Homo sapiens: one gene and its partners. The protein of the gene in region 3 purifies or fractionates together with the protein of the main gene of each other region. This does not show direct contact. Each region holds a gene or a part of one and is shown on either strand. Other genes may lie near its edges. The genes, in order: NUDCD1, LSM1, XRN1 and PATL2.

Evidence for each region.
Region 1: the proteins of XRN1 (region 3) and NUDCD1 purify together in Homo sapiens (co-immunoprecipitation; one large-scale study listed by IntAct). This does not show direct contact.
Region 2: the proteins of XRN1 (region 3) and LSM1 purify together in Homo sapiens (co-immunoprecipitation; one large-scale study listed by IntAct). This does not show direct contact.
Region 4: the proteins of XRN1 (region 3) and PATL2 purify together in Homo sapiens (co-immunoprecipitation; one large-scale study listed by IntAct). This does not show direct contact.

Annotation. Positions count from the first base shown.
Region 1 is NC_000008.11:109,243,054-109,247,569, forward strand, and holds part of NUDCD1 (nudC domain-containing protein 1), read right to left. Parts: intron 2,429-4,516; coding exon 2,269-2,428; intron 249-2,268; coding exon 1-248.
Region 2 is NC_000008.11:38,162,048-38,166,884, reverse strand, and holds the end of LSM1 (U6 snRNA-associated Sm-like protein LSm1), read left to right. Parts: intron 1-3,044; coding exon 3,045-3,215; 3' UTR 3,216-3,546; downstream 3,547-4,837. UniProt on the Homo sapiens protein: Plays a role in the degradation of histone mRNAs, the only eukaryotic mRNAs that are not polyadenylated. Probably also part of an LSm subunits-containing complex involved in the general process of mRNA degradation.
Region 3 is NC_000003.12:142,416,254-142,420,935, forward strand, and holds part of XRN1 (5'-3' exoribonuclease 1), read right to left. Parts: intron 2,629-4,682; coding exon 2,562-2,628; intron 2,357-2,561; coding exon 2,251-2,356; coding exon of another isoform or gene 2,217-2,250; exon of another isoform or gene 1,588-2,216; intron 977-1,587; coding exon 887-976; intron 1-886. UniProt on the Homo sapiens protein: Major 5'-3' exoribonuclease involved in mRNA decay. Required for the 5'-3'-processing of the G4 tetraplex-containing DNA and RNA substrates. The kinetic of hydrolysis is faster for G4 RNA tetraplex than for G4 DNA tetraplex and monomeric RNA tetraplex.
Region 4 is NC_000015.10:44,703,992-44,708,673, forward strand, and holds part of PATL2 (protein PAT1 homolog 2), read right to left. Parts: intron 1-4,682.

The DNA of each region.
Region 1 (4,516 bases), on a different chromosome or scaffold from region 3:
AAGAACAAATAATCTCTCATTTGTTGCCTGAAATCCTAAAATAGGATCATTGGTTTCTAGGCTTGCTACTTGCTGCTTAGCAACCTGTCCTACTTGCCTGCCTTCCTTTCTGTTGTAAAGTACAGTGGACATGGGAGCAGGCTGACGATAGATGAATACTCGACGAAGGCACTCACAAAGGGCTGCATACGAGTAATTTGGAGCACAGGCAAAAAATTTTTTGTCTCTCTTTGATGCTTGGACATAGCCTGCCAAGAATATGAGACAAACAAAAGAAAAACTATATATTAAACAGAAGGGGAAAAATGATGATTTAACATTTAATATTTTGCAATGTTTATTACAAATTAAAATGCCCAAGTAAAATATATACCATAAGGTATATAATTCTGAATCATTAACGATTAGCCACAATCAGTCTCTCCCATCTGGTACAAAAATACGACTTTAATTCCTAAGGAACAAAACAGATATGGCTTTCTCGCTTCAAAAAAAGCGTAATATAGCTTCATTTAATTTCCACGAATAATTCGAACACTAAAATTCTAAAATCTAAAACACTCAATACATGACAAAATATCTTTAAGTGCCAATTTAATATTTAGCTTCGTGAGTTACGGATAGGGCATCACAGAACCATTTTTTTCCTCTTAAATAAATTGGAAAATGTGTATAGGATACCATCATAAAGTTATTTTAGTTTTCTGTTCATAATGTATCCCTGAATGTACTAGTATTCGTGATGCATTCTCTTATTATCCCTAAAATGTTAGTGATATTTTTATACATCAATACCAACACTGTAACTGGATTTTTTTGTACTTTTAGCCCCCACAAGTAGAATGTTGATCACTATAACTTCAAAAATAATTTCAAGTCTCTAAACTGAAAAAAATCCTTATCTTAATTCATGTACATGTTTAAAAAGTATCTTTTTGGATTAAAACAACATTTATATTCCAAAATATAAATTATGATTTTTAGATAGTGACATGGTTAGCAAATGTTAGGTATTTATGATCATGTAAAATAAGAATATAACATTAATTAAAATTGAGATCTCATCAAACAATGAATAAGCAAAGGAACTACTGAGCACATGCAGATCAATACTGTTTTTAAAAATATTAAGCAGGTTTGAAGCAGGAAAAGTGAAGATTTAGATACCTATTTAAATAGTTTAAAGTAGCTATCCAGGCTAACCTTGACAGAATAATGTATATAATATTTCAAGAGTACATATCTAATATATGTTGATTTAACTTAGAATTAAGCATAGAATTCCCCTATAATAGGGGATTTGGGGATACAAATAGAACATCTGAGCATCTAAAGATGATATGATAGAGCTTTCTTCTGACCAAAGTATAGATAATTAAAAAATAGCATTATAGTAGGGAGGCTAAAAATTATATGGTTAAATTAGTTAACCAAACTTTGTACTTCAGGTCATAAAAATCCATTTGGAGTCTGAACCAGTTTAGCAGCCTACATTATTAACTATAAGGGATAATTAATAAATTTCTTCTACAATTAGGGTTGTGCACATATAGCCATCAAAATACGTAACTTCACTTCTTGCTGCCTGTTTAAAATAACCTTTCAATAAAGCAACAACTGTGGCTAATTCACATAAAAAATTTCTGTCACACAATACTAATGCATTTTGACAGAAAATCAATGATTGCATACGTCTATAATTAAGTAGTTTAAACATTGTCAAGCCCTAATTTTAAAACTGATTTTTTTCCTTTTATCCTACCAAATAAATTTAATTTCTGCTTATCACCGCTTTCCATAAGTATTTTCATTATAATGGCTCTCTTTTGTACTTAATTTTGACAAAAGATGTCTCCTAATGTGCATTACACCTTAGGGGAATTCTATGATGTTTCTGAAGATTACTCTGAAGAAACTTGAACACCAGTTCCATGTAGGGTATTATCAAGCTCCTTGCTCAGACTCCAGTATTATATGGCTTACAGAATTAGAAAAAGCAAATGACTTATTAGAATAATTCAAGTGGTTAGATAACCACTTTCATTTCTATTCTGTGTTGATCTTCTGTACAAGCATAAAAACAGATTAGTCTAAATGTTCCAACAGTGCTAACACTCACAACTAGTACAAGCAAACAAATCATAGCGCAAATCAATCTAAATGTAATCAGGACAGCTCAAATTAAAAAGAAAAAAAAGAAATGAACTTTAAATGAATGATGACTGTATTTCTGATTTCATGGAAAATGTCAAAGAGTTTGCTTTATACCTAAAGCATTGAAAGTTGCGATGTGCTCCCACATATCATCTTGTTTGCTGGAGTGTGGTTGCCAGAGTAGGGCATCAACATCATGGCGCAAACAGAAGCAGGGCATTTCTTTAGGATCCACTATGACAGAGAAAAGGTACTGGTTGCTTCCAAGATTCACCTAAAAAGTGATTTAAAAAAAAATTTACTCAACAACAAATTAATAATAGCAACAATAACAATGGCAGAAGCTGACAGCCAGCATTAAGTGTCAGCAACTGTTTTATACTTTTTATATACTTAATCTGATTGACTCCTCATAATATCCCTGAGATAAATGTGCTACTGTTATGTTCATTTCAAAGCTGAGGAAAGTGATGCACAAGGCATTTAGGTAACTTGTCGATGGTCAGCCTGGCCATAAGTCATGGAGCTGAAATTTGGACCCAGAGTCTATGTTCTTAATCACCACGTGATATACCACCTCTTAATTGTTAGTAAATAGTTTAAAACACGATATAAAGCAGGGGTCCCCAGTCACTGAGCCGCAGACTGGTACCAGTCAGTGGCCTTTTAGGAACTGGGCCGCACAGCAAGAGATGAGCAGCAGGCAAGGGAGCATTACTGCCTGAGCTCCACCTCCTGTCAGATCAGCAGTGGAATTAGATTCTCACAGGAGGGTGAACACTATTGTGAAATGCACATGCAAGGGATCTAGGCTGTCTGCCTTATGAGAATCTAACTAATACCTGATGATCTGAGGTGGAACAGTTTCATCCTGAAACCATCCACCAAGCCCCCACAGGCCCATGGAAAAACTGTCTTCCACAAAACTGGTCCCTGGTGCCAAAAAGGTTGGGGACTGCTGATATAAAGCACCAATTTTATAAGCAGACTATTTTTAGGCCATAGAATACACACATGAAGTTTACTAATGCTAACTTGTAATAATTACCAAGAACAATGACACTACCAGAATTTATGAGCACACTCTCATAACATTTATAACCAGGCATGTTATAAATACTAATCTTAACAACTCGCAAGGCTATTATTATCTTCATTTAAGGGATGAAAGAACAGGCTTGGAGAGTTTGAGTAACTTGTTCTAGGCTAAAGAGAAATATCACAATGCTGGAATTCACACTCAGATGTTTAAAACTATTTACTTAAACGTACTGCTTAATTAAAGTATCAATGTCAATATGTCAATAATGTCAACATTTGTTATTGTAACACATCAATAATTGTTACTGCAATATTGATGCCTAAAGAAATGCATTTTAATACAAAATCATCAAATTGAAACTCACTGAATTTCATCTACAGCAATACTTTTTCTAAATGAAGACATGTTGTAAGGATAGTCTTCTTTATGAGAAATGTTATTATCAGAGTTGAAAATACGAAACAGAATACCAACAAAAATCACATCAAATGTAGAAAATATAAAATATGCACAGTACTTATAAATATGTAATTGATTCTAGGAGTTTGCAAGCAGACTGGAGAACCGTAAAAGATTGGGTTAAAGTAAGAAGTGGAGACCTGACCTGAATTCAACAGGGAAAGCTGTGAAGTGGCTCTCCAGCAAGGGGACCTATTATTGGTAAAGCTGTGACAACACAGGCTATTGGTCACAGGAGAATACAGTGTCAGAGCAACCCATCTTCTGCTCCCCAGCAATGCCAGGGAAATAGGGCTTTTTCGTAGAGCCAGTGCTTGCTCTCTACAAAATAAGGGGAGAAGGCCAGCACACAGAGACCACAGACTATTTCTTTTCTCTCCTTACTCCCGATGATCAGTGGCTAGATGAGGTTTATTTTCAAAGTCACCACTACCTAACTGGCCTTTTATTATTATGTTTGACAGACCTAACACTGCTTCAGCTCTCTTCCCTGTACTCCAACTCTGATACTCTATTTTTTTTAACCAAGGGCTTTCACAGAAGAAAAATAAACAACAGCTAAAATAAAATACAAGTTGAAACAATATTTTCACAACAATACATCTACTTTCATGAGCCAAGTGCCTAAAGAATGTATTGAATATTATGAGGATTAATATAATTGAATGATCTCTGGTCCATCCATACTTGAAGAGACAGCAGTGAGAAAAGAATAGAGGACCTTGAACCACGAAGTGAAAGGTGACCACCAAGGGAGATCAATCATGAAAATAAGAGGATAAGAATGAAGGTAGGTGCCTTATTATGAGCCCCTCACTCTGACTTAGATGTTTCTTCACTTCAGCAGCCACTTACCTTACG
Region 2 (4,837 bases), on a different chromosome or scaffold from region 3:
ATACTGAAAAGCCCAAGAGGCAGTGCATTAGGCCGAGAACACTGTGCTCTCTTTAGCTGCTACTCATGGGTTGGGAGGGCAGGTGGTAATATATACTTTGCTGGGTGCTGTTAACTTTGGACCTAGAGCAGGGCTTGCTTATGTAATTTGTGTGGCTTTCATTGTAACTTCTGTGGTGAGAGTCCTCTCTGACTGATAATGCCACTGCCTGTGAGTTCTGAGACCTTGGCAGCATGTGGTAATAGTATGCAGGGCAGAGCATCTGGAGAAGTGTGTCAGTACCGTCCCAAACTTTTATCATTGAAAGTCATAGAGGAGGGTAAGAAACAGGAATACTTTGTATAGGCTTTCCATCTTACAAAAACACCAAATAATACCTGTACATTCATTTTAAGGACAATAAACTGAATCTATGGACAGTGAGATACTTTTTTAGCAAGGTTCTTCTGCATTATGACATTGGTTAGCAAATGTTTATAAGGGCCAGGCACAGTGGCTCACACTTTGGGAGGCCAAGGCAAGAGGATGCTTGAGGCCAGAAGTTTGAGACCAGCCTGGGCAACATAGCAAGACCCCATCTCTACAAAAAGAAAAAAGATTTAATGCCAGATGTGGTGGCACATGCCTGTAGTTCCAGCTACTTAGGAGGCTGAGGCAGGAGGATCACTTCAGCCCAAGAGTTTCAGATCATGGTGAGCTGTGATTGTGCCACTGCACTCCACCCTGGGCAACAGAGCAAGATCCTGTCTCTAAAAAAATGAAAAATGTGCTCACATTGGCAGCACATCTACTAAAATTGGAACAACACAGAGAAGATTAGCACGGCCCCTGCTTAAGGATGACACGCAAATTCATGAAGTCTTCTATATCTTTAAAAATAATTAATGAAAAATGTTTATAAAACATTCAAAAATAAAAATATTAAGCATACTATGCCACATTTAAGTGAAAAAACGAATTAAAGTCAGTATTTGCATTGTGGGTTTTTGGGAGGGGTTTGTTTTTGAGGCAGCGTCTCACTTTGTTATCTAGGCTGACTGCAGTGGTGTGATCACAGCTCACTGCAGCCTCAAACTCCTGGGCTCAAGTGATCCTCCCCCCTCAGCCTCATGAGTAGCTGGGACTATAGGTACACGTTACCACGCCCAGCTAATTTTTTATTTTTTACTTTTTTTTTTTTTTCCTTTTGAGACAGAGTCTTACTCTGTCGCCCAGGCTAGAGTGCAGTGGTGTGATCTTGGCTCACTGCAACCTCTGCCTCCTGGATTCAAGTGATTCTCGTGCCTCAGCTTCCCGAGTAGCTGGGATTACAAGTGTGAGCCACCACACCTGGCTGGGTTGTTTATTTTTTTTAAGTCAGTATATATGTAGAAAAATTGTAGGGATATTATCAAAATGTTAATCCTCCATACTGGAATTATGGATAATTTTTAAATTTTCCTTGTTTGTCTATTTTCCATATTATCTACGATGAGTGTGTATTTTTTAAATAAGGAATTTTTTATTAGGCAACAATTTTTTGTTTTTTTTTGAGATGGAGTTTTACTCTTGTCACCCAGGCTAGAGTGCAATGGCGTGATCTCCGCTCACTGCAACCTCCGCCTCCCAGGTTCAAGTGCTTCTCCTGCCTCAGCCTCCCAAGTAGCTGGGATTACAGGCACCTGCCACCACGCCCAGCTAATTTTTTTTGTATTTTTAGTAGAGACGGGGGTTTTGCCATGTTGGCCAGGCTGGTCTCGAACTCCTGGCCTCAAGTGATCTGCCCGCCTCGGCTTCCCAGTGTGCTGGGATTACAAGCGTGAGCCACCATGCCCAACCTAAGCAGCAATTTTTTAAATAGTGGAGAAAAATATTGGGACCAAATTGGTTTAGTAACCTAAATGGTCTGCCGAGGTTCTCCCTAGAAGACTTGTTGCCGTAAAGGGAAAAAGAGTCTTGTTACAGTTTAGATCTAGACTACAGAGCTGGTACGGTGGCGCACACCTGTAGCCCCAGCTACGTAGGAGGTAAAGGCAAGAGGATCCCTTTTTATTTTTGTCTTTTTACTTTTTTTGAGACGGTCTTGCTGTTGCAGAGGCTGGAGTGCAGTGACACATTCATGGCTCACTGCAGCCTTGAACTTCAACCTCCCAGGCTCAAGCAGTCCTTCCACCTCAGCCTCCTGAGTAGCTGGAACTGTAGGTGAACACCACCACACCAGCTTTTTTTTGTTTTGTTTTTTGGTGGAGTTAGTTAGGGTCTCACTGTGTTGCCCAGGCTGGTCTCGAACTCCTAGGCCCAAGTGATCCTCCCACCTCAGCCTCCCAAAGTGCTGGGATTACGACTGTGAGCCACTCCACCCGTCCTTAAAATAATTAAAAAAAAAAAAAAGTCTAAGGCCACATTGCCTCAATAACCTCCCTCTTGGATTCTCTGCAGTGGGGGAGATAGCTGTCTATAAGCAGCCCTAATTTTTTTTTTTAAGGAAATTAATCGTGGACTAATAGAAAATTAATCCTGACTAATATGGGATTTTGGATCACATAAAGCTCTGTTATACAAATACTTATTACTGCCTATAATCCCAGCACTTTGAGAGGCCAAGGCAGGCAGATCATGAGGTCAGGTTTCGAGACCAGCCTGACCAACGTGGTGAAACCCTGTCTCTACTTAAAATACAAAAATTAGCCAGGCGTGGTGGCACGTGCCTGTAATCACAGCTACTCAGGAGGCTGAGGCAGGATAATCGCTTGAACCCAGGAGGTAGAGGTTGCAGTGAGCTCAGATTGCGCCACTGCACTTCAGCCTGGGTGACAGAGAGACTCCATCTTGAAAAATATATACATATACTGATCACTATTAACCTCATTGTAAGTATGTATCCTATAGTAGTGTTGTCAGGCATTTCTTTGAAAAACTTACCGGTCCCTAGGAGAAGGATATTTCAGTTCCTGTCACAGTTATGAAAAATAATCTGAGCCTGATAGAGGAATCCATTTGCCTTGAGATCTGTGCTTTCTATTCTTGGTCTTCAGGTGAAGTTTTCAAACCTGTCTCTTTTGTAGGACTTGGAAAAGGAGAGTGACACACCCCTCCAGCAAGTATCCATTGAAGAAATTCTAGAAGAACAAAGGGTGGAACAGCAGACCAAGCTGGAAGCAGAGAAGTTGAAAGTGCAGGCCCTGAAGGACCGAGGTCTTTCCATTCCTCGAGCAGATACTCTTGATGAGTACTAATCTTTTGCCCAGAGGCTGTTGGCTCTTGAAGAGTAGGGGCTGTCACTGAGTGAAAGTGACATCCTGGCCACCTCACGCATTTGATCACAGACTGTAGAGTTTTGAAAAGTCACTTTTATTTTTAATTATTTTACATATGCAACATGAAGAAATCGTGTAGGTGGGTTTTTTTTTTAATAACAAAATCACTGTTTAAAGAAACAGTGGCATAGACTCCTTCACACATCACTGTGGCACCAGCAACTACTTCTTTATATTGTTCTTCATATCCCAAATTAGAGTTTACAGGGACAGTCTTCATTTACTTGTAAATAAAATATGAATCTCAAAAGTGTCATGTTATTTCCAAGTTTGAGTTACCTGTAATGAATAGATTAATAGATTAATTAAGTTTCTGCTCTCAAAGGTATAAGCAGTCCACATACTGGGATTTCCCCCTTCAGTCACAGTTTCAAGTAGCTGGCTACTTAGGAAGGAATATTTTTATTCCAGTCATCTCAGGGGTCCTCTCCTGTTTCCATGTTTGTATCTGTTAAGAAATACAAATGTTCGGCAGGGGCGGTGGCTCATGCCTGTAATCCCAGCACTTTGGGATGCCGAGGCGGGTAGATCACCTGAGGTCGGGAGTTGAAGACCATCCTGACCAACATGGAGAAACCCTGTCTCTACTAAAAATACAAAATTACCAGGGCGTGGTGGCGCATGCTGTAATCCCAGCTACTTGAGAGGCTGAGGCAGGAGAATCACTTGAACCTGGAAGGCAGAGGTTGCGGAGAGCCAAGATTGCACCATTGCACTCCAGCCTGGGCAATGAGCGAAACTCCGTCTCAAAAAAAAAAAAAAAAAAATATAAACGCTCAGGCGTGAGGAGGGAGCTTTCAGCTGTTTCCCAGTTACTGGTTACTGCAGAAGACTCATGTTTGAGAAACGACATCATGGTTGCTCTTGCTCCTGCTTCGCCCATGGCTATTCCAAACTAAGTCCCCACGAGACCCAACATGTTCTTACAGTGGCTTGTTCTCCAGGTTTTCTGCTAATTTAATTAGGTGTTCTAGTCCTTTGTATTGAGTCTTGAGTATCTTAACGTTCTCATCAAAAAGGAACATAAATGGTATTGTAGTGACTGAAAGCCCATAGTGATGGCACTTTGTGTGACTGTCGAAGAGTAGGGATTGCATGAAAAGCTTAACAGATTTGTACTTCAAGAAGGAAGCATGGGCCGGGTGCAGTGGCTTACACCTGTAATCCCAGCACTTTGGGAGGCAGAGGCAGGTGGTTCACCTGAGGTCAGGAGTTCAAGGCCAGTCTGGCCAACATGGTGAAACCCCGTCTACTAAAAATATAAAAATTAGCATGGTGGTGCATCCCTGTGATCCCAGCTACTCGGGAGGCTGAGGCAGGAGAATTGCTTGAACCCGGGAGGCAGAGGTTGCAGTGAGCTGAGATTGCACCACTGTAGTCCATCCTGGGCGACAGAGTGAGACTCTGTCTCTAAATAAATAAATAAAGGAATCATGGTTTAGTAGACAGTGGGCTCAACTAGGAGTTAGGAGATACCGTGTGAAATTGGCAATTATTGGCAGATTAGGCTTGAGTAAGTCATCCTCTGATTCTCAGTAATT
Region 3 (4,682 bases):
TCAATTGCAGCCTCTGCCTCCAAAGTTCAAGCGATTCTCCAGCCTCAGCCTCCCAAGTAGCTGGGACTACAGAGGCACACCACCATGCCCAGCTAATTTTTGTATTTTTAGTAGAGATGGGGTTTCACCATGTTGGCCAGGCTAGTCTCAAAACTCTTGACCTCAAGTGATCTGCCCACCTTGGCCTCCCAAAGCGATGGGATTAGAGGCATGAGCCACTGTGCCCGAACACTTCAATAATTATTCTTGATAGAGAATTTTTTAGCAAACACAAAAAATGTAAAGAGAATATAATGAACACCCTCACATAACCATCACTCAAACCCAGTAATTATCAAGACTTTGCCAAACTTGACTAACTTTGATAGAGAACATTAAATCTTTACATTAACTAAGACCTCTTATTATGAGCCTTCTGTTAGGGCTGGAGAAAATATTACCTATGTTTCATTTAAACCTGGTTGTATGGAACTTTTAAAAAATTACCATAAGTAGAGGCCGGGTGCAGTGACTCATGCCTGTAATCCTAGCACTTTGGGAGGTCAAGGTGGGCGGATCACCTGAGGTCAGGAGTTCGAGACTAGCCTGGCCAACATGGCGAAACACCATCTCTACTAAAAATATAAAAATTAGCTGGCCGTGGTGGCGCATGCCTGTAATCCCAGCTACTCAGGGGGTTGAGGCAGAATTGCTTGAACCCAGGAGGCGGAGATTGCAATGAGCCGAGATCATGCCACTGCACTCCAGCCTGGGCAACAGAGTGAAAAAAAAAAAAAAAAAAAAATTACCATAAGTAGAAATAAAAGGAAGTGCTTCCTAAATAAGACTCTAGTAGAATGAATCATTATAAAAAGACAAAACTTTATTTTTGTTTTTATTCTCTCACCAGCTCCAGGACTGAACTCCATGATAGTAATAGTGCAAAATCCACTGTATTGCCTGAACATAACATGCAGCTTGATCAGCCAGAAAGTCACTGAAAATAGAATATTTTCATTATAACATATTTTCTGAAGACAGGCCCGTGTCTTTAGAGCACGGTATCTGCTGATACAACATTTTACCTCAGATGATTTATTTAATCAATGAATTAGCTATTTATGGCTAAAAATTATAATCCTAAAAACTCCAAAATATTTTTAAAAATTACATCCTGTCACATGACAGTTTTCCTAAACCAACTATCAAAATAGATAAGTCTGTTATTCATATTTACTCAGTTAATGTACCACTCCCTTGGTCCAAAGGTTGAAGATTTACCCAATGAAGCTTTCCATAGTGACACTACCACTCTCTTAAATAGTGGGGGTGAGACGGGAGAAAGGGATGGGAATCTTCTTTACATGGGATGATATCTGAGAGAAGCAAAGCAGCAAATCAGGAAGATCTTAAAATTTGGTCACAGAAGCTAGAATGCTTTCAGAAGTGCTGTATGTGAACAATATTCCTTCTAATCCTTTCTTTGTCAAAAACCAAATGCCATCTTCTAAGTTTGGGTAAAATAAGTCTTCAAATCATCAAAACAAAACAAAACAGAGCCCTGGGCTAAAGGCAAAAATATTCACTTAGAAATTACATAACTACATATTTCTGGGAGGTAGTTTTTTAATATGAAAAATATTGCTTTTTTATTATAAAAGAACTATTTCCTCAGGAGTGAAAATCTGGACAATGAAGAACAGCATTTTTATCATCTTATAGCCATCACTTTTACATTTTTAGTGTTTCAGTCTTTTATCTATATCTAGGTTTTTTTAAGGTTAATGAGAGCATACTGTATGTATGATTTCATGTCTTGCCTTTACAATTTGTACTTAATAATGTACTATAAGCATCCTTCCAAATTGTTATGAACTTTCTGCAAGTACCAGTTTAGCAGTTCTGCAGATTCCGGAGATGGAAGAGGTGACAGAGATGGTGACTGTAATGAAGAAGCAGTGGCCAATTATGATGAACCTTCTTATTGGACATTTAGATTATTTCTAATTTTTTTACTATTATAAACAACTTTGTAACAAAAATCCTTATACATAAGGATCATTTTCTCTTCAGCAATTTTTATCACAGGAATATAATACAAGTCAGAATTAATACCATCTTCTCCAAAACCAGACTAGTTGAAACATACACAATAATTCATGAAACCAAAAAATCCTTTTTCTCCCACTACTTCATCAAAATCATATTTTCTGAATAACTGCAAAATCTAATTTTTTCTATTTTAAAATAAAAGCATTGGCAAAAACGTACTCAGATACTACGTCAACCCCCATCTTCGTCATGTAATATGTTCTTTTATATTGTCTAAACTCAGTTTCAAATAGGTCATCATCTTCAGTCTCATCTTCTAAATTATCTGGGGAAAAAAGTCAGAAAGATAGTGACTGACAATTATGAATAGCCTGTTTTTCCACCTAATGATTTGATAAATGCATATCCAAGTTGATGCTTATATGCTATCACAGAAATCTGTTCCACCCAAAATTAGTAATAATAAATAAAAGGTATAACAATTATCCTGTCAAAGTAGTAACATATCAAAACACATACTTCATACTTACCCTTAGAAGTTATCATTTCGCCTTCATTTTTGTCTAAAGCAGTCCAACACAGAGAATTTTCCTGGCCCTGTAAATTGTAAATCAACATAAAATGAATGGCAAGATACATTTCAAAATGAGATGTCATTTCTCTTCCATGCACCCATTTGCTTTTCTATAGTTCTTCCATGTTATAACATCCTTCATATCCTGCCCATCTGTTTTTCCTCCCTTGTGATCTCAATCCTTTCTCTCCTCTATTCTCTGATTTCCTGTCTACTGCCAATGACTCTCTTTAGTTCTTCCTACTCCCTTATCCCCATTTCCTTTCTTTCATCCAACTTATGGCCTCTACCAACTTCCTGTGTCTGGGCTATTCCTGCACAGTGTCTCTAAAGTTAGCTGCATATGGCTGGAAGACTGGTGAAGTTTAAGTACTGAATTGTGGTGGGGGAGCCAGGGATTACTGACAGGTAAGTTTTGTGTGTACAGGTTCCCAAAAAGTTGCAGAGCCCGTTTTCTTAGGGGGGGAAAAAAAAAGACACACACACACACACAAAAACCAGTGGAATGCAGACTGACTGCTGCCAAGTTCCAGTGAGGAAGAGCTAAGCAGCGAGAAGGACTACACTAGAGAAAACAAGGACAGTTGCCCCTCCTGGAGCAAGAGTCATTAAGTTTGAACCTAAATAGAACCAGTACAGCAAGGAGAGTAAGAAGCTCAACAGAATCTTGGCCGGGCACGGTGGCTCACGCCTGTAATCCCAGGACTTAAGGGAGGCCAAGGTGGGCAGATCACGAGGTCAGGAGTTCGAGACCAGCATTACCAACATAGTGAAACCCCGTCTCTACTAAAAATACAAAAATTAGCTGGGTGGTGGCGCGCACCTCTAATCCCAGGTACTCAGGAGGCTGAGGCAGGGGAATTCAAGCGAACCCAGGAGGTAGAGGTTGCAGTGAGCCAAGATCGCGCCACTGCACTCCAGCCTGAGTGACAGAGTGACATGCTGTCTCCAAAAAAAAAAAAAAGAAACTCAGCAGAATCCAATAATTACAGAGAGGCTGAAGAATTTTTCACAAGAGGTTTACTTTTCAAGTTAACACAAGACATTCTTTGGAGATTATCAGAGATGCTCTGCAGGGTACTATCATATTCTAATTGATTCTATTATTCATTTATTAAGCACATAACATTTACTAGATATTGTGCTATTAGGCTGGCACAAAAGTAATTGTGGTTTTTGCCATTACTATTAACTTAGACTATTGTATTTTATATGTAAATCATTTCTAGAGAAAAATCACTGATCTAGTTAATGTCTCATATCATTAAACACTATAAATATCCACATTTTAAAAACTAGTCCATTGTTTTAAAATAACAATTTTTTTTTAATTAAAAAAAAATTGCCAGGGGAAAGTGTGAATGCAGTCCTCCACTACCATAAGTCACGCAGTTCAGTTTCCCACATTTGGCGAAATCGCAGGGCATCAGCACATCCAGAGTGCAATGGATAAACCTCGCCCTGGGAAAACTACCTTCATGATCATGGTATCCTCCCTGTCAGGTTTTAAATAATTGTTTTTCTTTTTTATGAGACAGAGTCTCACTCTATCAGCCAGGCTGGAGTGCAGTGGCTCAGTCTTGGCTCACTGCAACCTCTGTCTCCCAGGTTCAAGTGATTCTCGTGCCTCAGCCTCCCAAGTAGCTGGGATTACAGGTGTGTGCCACCACATCCAACTAATTTCTGTTTTTTTAGTAGAGATGGGGTTTCGCCACGTTGGCCAGGCTGGTCTCAAACTCCTGACCTCAGGTAATCCACCCATTTTGCCTCCCAAAGTGCTGGGATTACAGGTGTGAGCCACTGCACCTGGCCTTAAATAATTGTTTTTAATAACATGTTTTAAGTAATTTTTTTAAAAAGCCCAGAAAATAATTCATTTTCTGGGCTTTTATGTTTAGAAATGTTTTCCACATTTATTAACATAAAACACAATGTACCTCTTCAACAGTAAAAATAAGGAACTGATTATTGAAGATCTCATTAAATGACAGAAGCTAATAGAAAAAAAGAAACCAAATCAATTTCTGAAATGCCTATAGAGAGGAAGAGAAATAAAACGAGGCAATCCCAAATCATA
Region 4 (4,682 bases), on a different chromosome or scaffold from region 3:
TGGGGACTTTTTTTGAGATGGGGATCTCGCTTTGTCACCCAGGCTGGAGTGCAGTGGTGCGATCTTGGCTCACTGCAACCTCTGCCTTTCAGGCTCAAGTGATCTGCCCATCTCAGCCTCCCAAGTAGTTGGGACCACAGGTGAGTGCCACTATGTCTGGCTAATTTTTTTTTTTTTTTTTTGGTAGAGACAAGCACTTTTGTAGAGACAGCACTTTCACCACCGTGTTTTCCAGGCTGGTTTCAAACTCCTGAGCTCAAGCCAAAGGCCTGCTTTGGCCTCCCAAAGTGCTAGGATTACAAGTGGGAGCCACCACTCCTGGCCCCTGTTGTATGCTTTTTTATTTCAGGTTACCATAAGGCTTGTATTTAATATTTTATAACCCATTATTTATTTTATTATTTTTGGCATATTCACAACATAACCCATTATTTTAAACCAATGAAAACTTACCACTGATTACATAAATAAAGAAGCAAAGAAAAAATTAATAAAAACTCTACATTTTAACTTTGTCCTCCTGCTTTTTAATTCTTTGTTGTTTGTGTTTGTGTCATATTGTACTGTCTATGTCTTGAAAAGTTGTTATAGTTATTAGTTTTGACTGGTTCAGCTTTTGGTCTTTCCACTCAAGATATGAGTAGTTTACATACCATGATTACAGTGTTACAATATTCTGTTTTTTTTCTGTGTACTTCCAATTACCAGTGAGTTTTACACCTTCAAATTATTTTTCATTGCTCATTAATGTCCTTTTCTTTCTGATTAAAGAACTCCCTTCAGCATTTCTTGTAGGACAGGTCTGGTGTTGATGAAATCCCTCAACTTTTGTTTGTCTAGGAAAGTCTTTATTTCTCCTTCATATTTTCAAGGATATTTATTTCTCCTTCATATTTCAAGGATATTTCCACTGGAAAGTCTGCTGCCAGACATATCAGAGCTCCATGGTATGTTATTTGTTTATTTTCTGTTGCTGCTTTTAGGATCCTTTCTGTATTCTTGACCTTGGGAGTTTGTTTATTAAATGTTTTGAGGTCATCTTCTTTGGGTTGAATTTGTTTGGTGTTCTATAACCTTCATATACTTGAATATTGATATCTTTCCCTAGGTTTGGGAAGGTCTTTGTTACTATCACTTTGAATAAACTTTCTACCCCATCTCTCTCTCTACCTCCTCTTTAAGGCCAATAACTCTTTTTTTTTTCTTTTTGAGACAGAGTCTCACTTTGTTGTCCAGGCTGGAGTGCAGTGCTGTGATCTTGGTTCACTACAGCCTCCACTTCCCAGGTTCAAGCAATTCTCCTGCCTCAGCCTCCAGAGTAGCCGGGATTAAAGGCGCCTGCTGCCACGTCCAGCTAATTTTTGTATTTTAGTTGAGACGGGGTTTCACGATGTTGGCGAGGCTGCTCTCGAACTCCTGACCTCATGATCTGCCCACCTTGGCCTCCCAAAGTGCTGGGATTACAGGAGTGAGCCACTGCACCTGGCTGCAGCCAGTAACTCTTAAATTTGCCGTTTTGAGGCTATTTTCTAGATCTTGTAGGCATGCTTCATTCTTTTTTATTCTTTTTTCTTTTGTCTCTTCTGATTATATTTTCAAATTGCCTGTCTTCAAGCTCACTAATTCTTTCTTCCACTTGATCAGTTCTACTGATAAGAGAGTCTGATGCACCCTTATGTATGTCAGTATCATTTTTCAACTCCATAATTTTTGCTTGATTCTTTTTAGTTATTTTAATCTCTTTGTTAAAGTTATATGATAGGATTCTGAATTCCTTCTCTGTGTTAGCTTTAATTTCTTTGAGTTTCCTCAAAACATTGTTTTTTTTTAGACAGAGTCTTGCTCAGTTGCCCAGGCTGGAGTACAGTGGTATGATCTTGGCTCACTGAATCTCCGCCTCCCAAGTTTAAGCAATTCTCCTGCCTCAGCCTCCTGAGTAGCTGGGATTACAAGCATATGCCACCACGCCCAGCTATTTTTGTATTTTTAGTAGAGATAGGGTTTCACCATGTTGGCCAAGCTGGTCTTGAACTCCTGAGCTCAAGTGATCTACCCACCTTGGCCTCCCAGAATGTTGGGATTACAGGTGTGAGCCACCGTGCCTGACCAAAACAGCTATTTTGAATTCTGTTTCAAAGGTCACATATCTCTGTTTCTCTGGGATTGGCCTCTGGTGCCTTATTCATTTGATGAGGTCATGTTTTCCTGGCTGGTCCTGATGCTTGTGGATGTTCATCAGTGTCTGAGTTAAATATTTATTATAGTCTTTGCAGTCTGGGCTGTTTGTATCTGTCCTTCTTGGGAAGGCTTTCCAGGAATTCAAAGGAACTTGGGTGTTGTGATCTAAGTTTTTGGTCACTGCAGCTGTATCTGCATTAGAGGGCACACCAAGCACAGAAATGCTGTGGCTCTTTCACAGTCTGTTGTATCTTTTTTGATTTGAGGTTACCATGAGGTTTGCAGATAATATTTTATCACTCATTATTTTAAACTGCTGACAACTTAACACTGATTACTCATAGAGGCACTGCCATGGTGGTCTTGGATAAGATCTGGAAGAATTCTCTGGATTACCAGGCAGAGACTCTTATTGTCTTCCCTTATTTTCCCCCAGGCAAAGTCTGTCTTTCTGTGATCAGCTGCCTGGAGTTGGGGGAGAAGTGACACAAACACCCCTGTGACCACCACTGGGACTGTGCAGGGTCAGACGTGAAGCCAGCATAGTACTGGGTCTTGCCCAAGGCCTATGGTAACCACCGCCTGGCTACTACCTATGTTCACTCAAGGCCCTATGGCTCTAAAATCAGCAGGTGGCAAAGCCAGCCAAGCTTATGTCCCTCTCTTTAGGGTGGCAAGTTTCCCCCAGCCTGGGGTGAATCCAGAGATGCCTTCCAGGAACTGGGGCCTAGTCAGAAACCTTAGGAATCTACCTGGTACTCTATTGCACTGAGGCTGAACTGGCACCCAAGCCACAAGACAAAGTCCTTCCCACTTTTCCCTCCCCTTTCCACAAGCTGAGGAGTCTCTTGCCATGGCCACTTCCACCCCAGGCCTGTGGTGGGTACTGTCTGGCTACTGCTGATGTATACTCAAGGCCCAAGGGCTCTGCAGTAAGCTTGTGGTGAACGCTGCCCAGCCTGGGACTCACCCTTCAGGGAAGCAGGCTCCCCTCTGGCCCAGAGCAGGTCCAGGAATGCTATCTAAGAGCCAAAGCCTGGAATCAGGGACCTTAAGAGGCCACTTGGTATTCTAACCCCACAGTGGCCAAGTCCCCTTTACTCTTTCCACTTCTTTTCTCAAGCAGAAGGAATTTCTCCCCATAGCCACCACAGCTGTAATGTGCTGGGTCACACCTTAAGCCTGCACGTCTCTGAGTCTCACCCAAAGCCCATGATGAGTACTACCTGGCTACTTCTGATTATTCAGGGCCAAAGGGCTCTTTAGTCAGCTGGTGAGGAATCCTGCCAGGACTGGTCCTTCCCTTCAAGGCAGCAGGTTCCCTTCTGGCCCAGGGTGTGGCTAGAAATGTCAGCTTGGAGCTATGGCCTGGAATGTGGGCCTCAGGACTTTGCCTGGTGCCCTATCCTACTGCAGCTGAGCTGGTATCCAATGCAAGACAAACTCATCTTTGTTCTTCCCTCTCCTCTTCTCAAGCAGAGGAAAGAAGTCTCTCTCTGAGCTTTGAGCTGCCCTGCCTGGGGTTGGGAGAGGGGTGGTGCAAGCAATCCCTTGGCCATCCCAGCTAGTGTCTCACTAGGTTGTGTGCCCCCCACATTCACTGGCTCTGAGCCCAGCACAGCACCAGGACTTACCCAGGAATTGCCATCCTTGTGGCCTAGACTGCCTTTCAAGTTTATGTAGAACCTCAGAGCACTTCAGCCCATGGTGGGGAGGCTTACTGGAACTCAGGTTCCCACTGCTGGGATGGGTGATTTGCCTCTAGCTAGGGCTGGTCTAAATGATCCCTCCATGGGACCTGGGTGAGTTCTTCCCAGTGTTGCTTTGTGCTATGACTGGGCAGCACTGAGTTCCAATGCAAAGTCTGAAAATCACTGCACTCTTCCTCTCCCAGAAGCACACATTCTCTCTCCATGCCAGGTGGCCGCTGCCGGCGAATGGGGGAGAGATAGCATTTAGCAATTCAAGACTGTCTTACCCTCTTCAGTTACTCTTTCAGTGATACGAAGTTAAAACCAGGTACTGTGATCACTCACCTGATTTTTGGTTCTTATGAAGGTGCTTTTTTTTGTGTGGATCATTATTCAATTTGGTGTTCCTGCAGGGAGCAGGATTAGTGGAGGCGTCTATTCAGCCATCTTGCTCCACCTCCCCTAGCTATGTCCTTTTAAATATTTATAATCGACATACAATATATTACACTTAAAGTATACAATAAGTTCTAAAATATAACTGAAATCATCATCGAACTCTAGATAATTAACATATCCATCAACCCTAAAGTTTCCTCATGTTTAGATGATCTCCTTTCCCTCTAGAAACCACTCATCTACTTTCTGTCATATAGATTATAGTTTGCCTTTTCTGGAGTTTTATATAAACAGAATCATATAGTATATGTTCTTTTCTGTCTGACTTCTTTTATTTACCATGATTATTTCATCCATGTTACATGTATCAACAGTTTATTCCTTGTTTGTTGATGATAGTATTTCATTGTATGG